2 linked regions of the Homo sapiens genome follow. The protein of the gene in region 1 purifies or fractionates together with the protein of each later gene. This does not show direct contact. Each region holds a gene or a part of one and is shown on either strand. Other genes may lie near its edges.

What was found. Proteins that work in one complex are often made in the same cells at the same time.
Region 2: the proteins of SMARCE1 (region 1) and PBRM1 purify together in Homo sapiens (affinity purification with western blotting; 11 studies listed by BioGRID and IntAct, with this or other methods). This does not show direct contact.

What each region holds. Positions count from the first base shown.
Region 1 is NC_000017.11:40,627,641-40,630,818, forward strand, and holds part of SMARCE1 (SWI/SNF-related matrix-associated actin-dependent regulator of chromatin subfamily E member 1), read right to left. Parts: coding exon 3,074-3,178; intron 1,354-3,073; coding exon 1,145-1,353; 3' UTR 1-1,144. UniProt on the Homo sapiens protein: Involved in transcriptional activation and repression of select genes by chromatin remodeling (alteration of DNA-nucleosome topology).
Region 2 is NC_000003.12:52,608,372-52,612,913, reverse strand, and holds part of PBRM1 (protein polybromo-1), read left to right. Parts: intron 1-2,322; exon of another isoform or gene 2,323-2,380; coding exon of another isoform or gene 2,381-2,396; intron 2,397-2,958; coding exon 2,959-3,601; intron 3,602-4,542. UniProt on the Homo sapiens protein: Involved in transcriptional activation and repression of select genes by chromatin remodeling (alteration of DNA-nucleosome topology). Required for the stability of the SWI/SNF chromatin remodeling complex SWI/SNF-B (PBAF).

The DNA.
Region 1 (3,178 bases):
TGCATTACAGAAAAAAACTGGATGCTTGTCTTGCATACAAATATGTAGTGCATTAAAAACACTGAGACCTTTTTTTCATTTTTTTTTTTATTACATTTGGACCTTTAAGAAACATATACCATCAGATATACCACTATTCAGTAAAAATCTATTCTAGTTTTTGGGAAGCTTATGTGTCACAAACTATCTTGCTTCTAGTCTCCAAGACTTTACTAAGTTTATCAAAAAGGTGGGCTCTGGTCTATGGGATCCTGAGCCTTGAGGTTTGGATGTTCTGATTATTGTAAAACAATTTCAAGTGGATTAACTTAATTCCCAGCTGTTTTTCTTCTGGAATGGGCTAATCAGTTTGAATTATCTAGTCCATTACAAGAATATTAAATTCCTTGAGCTTTGTGATCTATTCTGTCTTTGGAAAACCTGGTAAAAAAGTAATTTTTTTTCTATACAATAAGGATGGATTTACCAGAACATACCCAGTATTAATCATAACAAAAAGCAGTATAGATAATGTATATGTGCTGTGTTCACTTTAATAACCACTTCATAAGTAACTACTCTAACTATGGGGACTATTTCTGGATCAGTAAGATCCAAGTGTAGTTAGTTACACACTACACTCAGCTTAACACAACTCTTGGTATCTGACATTGATTAAAAGTAAAAAAGGGTAAGTGAACAAATACATACTCATACATGATCACGTTTTTAAGAAGCTACCCTTTGCAGAAGTAAACAAGAGAGGAGACTTTCAGGAAGCTACTGATGGGGACTGGGAAGGTTTAAAGCTATGGCTTTGGTAAGCACCCCAGTGAGCTGTAGGAAGGCATTGTAAGAGTAGATTCTGCAGCATCAAAGGATAATTCTCTAAAAGAGGTGGGTGTTTTCTCAATTAATCTAAATTCTGAGGCTTTCAGCAGTTGAGGGCTAGAAACAAGATCCAAAGAAAAGAGCCATCTTCACAACACTTAAGAAAGGTGACTGACTGAGCCATTAGGCTCATGATGCTAAATGGTCCAAAAGCCTTTGGTGGTGTGATATGGACAAGAAAAAAAATTAATACACAAACCACGTAACACCATTAAAACCAAAAAACATTTTTTCATTAAAAAAAGTATTTAGAACACACAAAACAAGGCAACACTTATTCTTTTTTCTCATCTTCTGGTATGGGATCTGTTGGTGGCTCCTCCACTGTTGCACTGTTGCTCTCCGAGCCAGTGTTACTATCACTGGTTCCTTCCTCTGCCATACTGTCGACCCCCTCCTGCCCACTCTCCTTGTCCTCAGGAGTAGACGTGCCTTCTTCACCATTCTGTTGGCTCTCTGTTGTTTCTTCAAGGTGTGTCTCCTCTGTAATCACACATTTGTCACTGTCAGTTCCAAGATGAAATTTTACTCTAGTTATGCTGACAGTATACAGCTGTGCTGTCCAATATAGAAGCCACTAGCCACATGTGGTTATTAAACCCCTGAAATGAACCAGTGTGACTAAAGAACTTTTAAGAATGTTGGAACAATTTGGGTATGAAAATCTACTTTTTAGCTGTAAATGAATGAAATTTATTAAATAAATGCAGATCAAATACTTCCGATGAAAATTTAGCTTCTGAATTGAGATGTGTATAAAGACTGTTTAAAAAAAGGAAAGCTGATTTTAAAAATGTTCCTTCTGTGTTGAAATAATTTTATTTAGGATATGTTGAATTAAATAAAACATATTGTTAAAACACTTGTTTTGCTTAACTTTTAAAAATATGTCACTAGTAGAAAATATAAAATTTCACGTGACTTGCATTTTATTTCTGTTGGACAGTGAATGAGAGTTAGTCTGTAGTGCTATGGATTAAACGAGGAGAAAGCAGTTGTAGAAATAATATAAGGTTGGTCTTTTAGACACTTTGTTTAAAGTCATGCTGGGCTGTTTCCTGTAAGAAATTAAAAGCATGAGGTTTTAGCTCTAATAGTCTCAAACGATTTTCTTCAGGTTTTTTCCTTGAACTAGGACAGAATCTGAGTAAAGACCTGCAAACCTTAAGCATAAGACATGCCCCATTCATAGATGCCAAAACAGAGGCAAAGGACTGAGTGTTTGTCTAGTTGCAAAATTAGCAAAAATCAGTTATTTTAATTTTCAAGCTCGTTTTAACCACAAAAATGTGCTCATGCTCCAAATTCATTACAATAAAAAACACATTCATACAAAACAGAAAGAGACTCAGATACTGAAACTTAAAATATGACCATTTCAAATGTTAATCTGCTGGATTAAATTTTGCAGAAATACCTGGTAAAGATATCTATATTCCATTACATGTTTTCCAGATGGTTGTCATCTGAGTACCAAGTATGACTACTGTCCCTCCCACTTCTTGCAACGATGCTCCAGGAAGCCTTTGGTTTTGTTTTCCATAACTACTTTTAGCTTAGTCCTGTTTACACAGTGTACTAGGCAGTGTTAAAACAGTGCCATGAGGTAAGGTGATCTCAAAATTACAAGTGACGATCAATGTAATCAGTACTTTATGTAAGTTTTATTTATACAAGTTATTATTATTATTTTTTACCTTGAGGGATGCTTTTAATCAGGAAAATCAGTATACCTAGAAGTAAGGGTTTTTCTAGGACAGAGCTGGCAATTTTTTTCTGTAAAGAGCCAGATAGAAAATATTTTAGACTTCGCAGGCCAGGCAGTTGTTGTTGCAACTACTCAACTATACTGTTTTATCCCCAAAGCAGCCACAGACAGTATGTAAACAAACAAGTGTGGCTGTGTTCCAGTTTTATTTACAAAAACAAGTGGTGGGCAGGATTGGCTTACAGGTATTACTTTGCAGAATGCTGTCCTAGGACACCAAAGACAATTAATCTTAACGGTAATAACCACATCTTGATAAATAATGTAAGCATTTAAAGGTTAAAATACTGAATGTCAATATCATGTCAAATTTAGTACTGGGAATCACCCTCAGTGGCAGGTACCAGAATACTTGCACTTAGAAAGAAAAACCTAAATTAAAGACAGCCGTACAAAGTCTTGGCACTGCCTCTGCGTTTGTTGCTAGTGGGTTACCTGTCTCCATCGGAATGTTCTCGTCGTCTTTCTTCTCCTCGCCTTTGTTAGCTGCTTGTTCTTCCTCAGGAACGATGCTGCTCTGACTGCGCTCAGCTTGCTCTG
Region 2 (4,542 bases), on another chromosome or scaffold:
TTTTTTTTGAGACGGATTCTCACTCTGTTGCCCAGGCTGGAGTGCAGTGGCACGATCTCGGCTCACTACAGACTCCGTCTCCTGGGTTCCCCCAATTCTTCTGCCTCAGCCTGCAGGGTAGCTGTAACTACAGGGACACGCCACCATGCCTAGCTAATTTTTTTGTATTTTTAATAGAGACAGGGCTTCACCATGTTGGCCAGACTGGTCTCGATCTCCTGACCTCAAGTGATCCGTCCGCCTCCGCCTCCCAAAGTGCTAGGATTACAGGCATGAGCCACCGCACCCAGCAGATTGTTATACTCTTAAACCCATGATCTAGAGCAGTCTCCTTCCTTTTCTTTCCACATGCCAGTAACTCATTGAAGAAATCAGGTCACTTTCCTGTACAGTGTCCCAAGTTCTAGGTTAGACAGGCTTGCTTCCTTGTGATATCTGTAACTTTTTTCTTTATTTCCCTTATTTCTTATAAATAGAAGTTAACTTTGAAGGTGCGATTAGATTAAGTTTCACCTTGGTGGTGATACTTTATAAGGGGTTTGCTGCCCTTATGTTGTATCATGTCTTGAGGCAGTGTCTGGTTAAAGTAGAATCCAGATAAAGTCCACATACTGCAACTGATTGATACCTCTTTTTTTTTTTTTTTTTTTTTTTTGAGACGGAATCTCGCTCTGTTGCCTAGGCTGGAGTCAGTGGCACGATCTCGGCTCACTGCAACCTCCGCCTCCTGGGTTCAAGTGATTGTCCTGCCTCAGCCTCCCAAGTAGCTGGGACTACAGGTGTGCACCACCACGCCCGGCTGATTTTTGTGTATTTTTAGTAGAGGCAGGGTTTCACCATATTGGCCAGGCTGGTCTTGAACTCCTAACCTCGTGATCTGCCCGCCTCGGCCTCCCAAAGTGCTGGGATTAAAGGTGTGAGCCACCATGCCCAGCCCGATACTTCTTTTAATCTGTAAACTCCCCTCCAGCTCTCTCTTTTTCCACCCCTTACCATTTATCTGTTGAAGAAATTAGATTTGTGCTGTAGTTTCCCATAGTCTGGGTTTTGCTGATTGCATCCATATGTTGTGGGGTTTTTTGTGTGTTTTGTGTTTTGTTTTGTTTTGTGGAGACAGGGTCTTACTCTGTCACCCAGGCTGGAGTGTAGTGGCACATTTTTGGCTCATTGCCACCTCCACCTCCCTTCTGAAGCAGTCCTTCCACTTTAGCCTCTCGGGTAGCTGGGACTACAGGTACACGCCACCACGTCCAGCTCATTTTTTTGTATTTTTAGTAGAGACAGGGTTTTGCTATGTTGCCAGGCTGGTCTTGAACTCCTGGGCTCAAGTGATCTGCCCACCTTGGCCTCCCATAGTACTAGTATTGCAGGCATGAGCCACAGCTCCTGGCCCACTATGTTGTACTTTCATGTGTTCCTCTGTCCTTTGTATTTCCTATAAATTGGTAGTTGGAGCCAGAGGCTTGATCAGATTGAGGTCTGATCCCCTGTTCTCTCCCTTAGGCAGAAAAACCGACTTCATAGGTAATATATGGTCTTCCATCAGGTACATGTGAAATCTATTTATGGCTTTCTGTTAACAGGTGTTGTTGCATACTTCATTAATTATTAATTCATGAAAGGGATGTAAAATTGTGATAGTTTTTAATTTTATTCCTTATTAGCTATAGAGAAACTTTGCCTTATCTAATATTTGATTAGCCAGTGGTACAGTGTTTTTTTTGTGTGTGTCTTGCTTTTTGAAAGGATAAAGGCTTGATTTTTGTTTTATTTTGTTTTCACCTTTACCAGTTTTCAAAATATGTATTGGTTTACTAACATCCTTCAATATTTACCCATTTTGTTGTTTGTTTGTACGTATTATTAAGAACTACCAGACTTAAACATATGGCTGAGTTGTAATTGAAGTTATTGTCCTTATTGATACTCAGGCTGGTTCAGGCTCGTTCCTGTATTCTTTTTGTTTTGTTTTTTTGAGACAGAGTCTCGCTCTGTCGCCCAGGCTAGAGTGTAATGGCTTGATCTCAGCTCACTGCAACCTCTACCTCCTGGGTTCAAGCAATTATCCTGCCTCAGCCTCCCGAGTAACTGGGATTACAGGCGCCACCACCACACTCGGCTAATTTTTTGTATTTTTAATGGACACAGGGTTTCGCCATGTTGGCCAGGTTGATCTTGAACTCCTGACCTCAGGTGATCCACCCACCTTGGCCTCCCAAAGTGTTGGGATTACAGGCATGAGCCACCACGCCCAGCCGGTTCCTATATTCTATTGACATGAAGTCATGGTAAGAAGTCATTGATAGATTCTTTACTGTCTAGTGTTTGAAGATATACCAGACTGGGAATCAGCCATTTACCAAGGAGCCCTACCTTTTTCATGTTTCTGCTGAAAGGTGAGGGCTCCTCAACATTACTATTTGGAATTAGTATTTTAAAACTCTAATGTGGGCTATACTGCTACTGAGGTAGTCATTGTTTGTACGATTTTCAGTGGACAGAGCTAGGAAATTTGTGTGTTTGTTTGTATGTTTATATTTAAAGATAAATTACATCATAAGTTCATAGTGATACTTTCAATTGAGATTAAAGGCCTCAAGGTAATTATTAATGTCCTACGTTTTAACATCCGTTATCTCTTTTTATCCCATGATGAAAATCTCAGTTCTCCAGGATACCAGAGGTGATAGAATGTCACATAGCTACTCATTTGCTTTATTCCTTCTTATTCACAGCTTTCTCAACCTTACAGTAGTCTCCCATCAAAAATATAATTACTGAAAACAGTTAAAAAAAATTTTTAGTACTTTTTTGTCTGCAGGTTATATTTCACTATAGACATGCTAATTGCTAGATTTTACAAATTACTTGGAATCGTCCCTTGTGGTTATGCTACCATCTGTATACAAATTTAGGTTCATTTATTTTATTCATTTAACATTAAATATCTCTCTTTAGGTAGGAAGAGTGGCATTTCTCCTAAAAAATCAAAATACATGACTCCAATGCAGCAGAAACTAAATGAGGTCTATGAAGCTGTAAAGAACTATACTGATAAGAGGGGTCGCCGCCTCAGTGCCATATTTCTGAGGCTTCCCTCTAGATCTGAGTTGCCTGACTACTATCTGACTATTAAAAAGCCCATGGACATGGAAAAAATTCGAAGTCACATGATGGCCAACAAGTACCAAGATATTGACTCTATGGTTGAGGACTTTGTCATGATGTTTAATAATGCCTGTACATACAATGAGCCGGAGTCTTTGATCTACAAAGATGCTCTTGTTCTACACAAAGTCCTGCTTGAAACACGCAGAGACCTGGAGGGAGATGAGGACTCTCATGTCCCAAATGTGACTTTGCTGATTCAAGAGCTTATCCACAATCTTTTTGTGTCAGTCATGAGTCATCAGGATGATGAGGGAAGATGCTACAGCGATTCTTTAGCAGAAATTCCTGCTGTGGATCCCAACTTTCCTAACAAACCACCCCTTACATTTGACATAATTAGGAAGAATGTTGAAAATAATCGCTACCGTCGGCTTGATTTATTTCAAGAGCATATGTTTGAAGTATTGGAACGAGCAAGAAGGATGAATCGGTATGTTTTCAAAGCCATTTTTATTTTGAGGATATGTGCTATTTAATACAAAACAGATGAAAGAATATTGCTTTGATGTACTATTTCCACTTACATACATGATTTGTAGTTGGTAGCATGCTATTCTGAATTCTAATCAGCCAGAACTTCTTAAGAGTGAGTATATTCTGTGGGGGAGAGAAGGCACACCACTAAGTCATCTAGTTTAAGGCCAGTGAGGAGGAAGACAAAATTGAAAATCTCTTGAAAAGCATAAACTTAAAATACAGCCTTTCATAGAATGTGTTTTTTAAAAAGATAAATGTTTCTAATTGGAAATAGTAACAGCGTTTTTCTTTTAAGGTTTGGCTTCAGTGCACGAATGCTTTAAATAAAATAGCTCTAAGGTGTTGTCCTGAGGTTAGACTGATAGAAATTTGATCACCATTTTAAGTACCTCAGAGGGTTTCTTTTTTTTTTTTAATCTCAGGTTTCTCACCTTAAGAGCTTGCTGAAGACATTAAATGTTCTAAAAGAAGCAATCAAATTTAGATTTACTTTAAACTTAAATTTCCTTCTAATTTTTATCTGTGATATATCGTTGCTACATGTCAATAGCAGACTTGACTATTAAATTCAGCAATTACAGTGTATTTTATATGTGCACTTAGAGACAGTTGGAAAAATATAAAAAAAAAAAAGATACAAACCTTACCTTCCTGGAGCTTACAGCCTATCATGTTTAGAACTAGACCTTCAGGCAGTGTAATGCCAGCTGGGGAATCTATGAAATCAGAATTTGCTCTGAACCTTTAAAGAAAAGCAAGTAGTAATGTTTGCTTTCAGTGTCTTTGCAAATAAAAGAAAAAAAACATAGTAACATTTGCTGCTTGTGTTAAGCACCAGCTCTTCGTAAAGCACCATGCTAAGCACTTTATGAAGGCAATCTCTAACCCTTATGA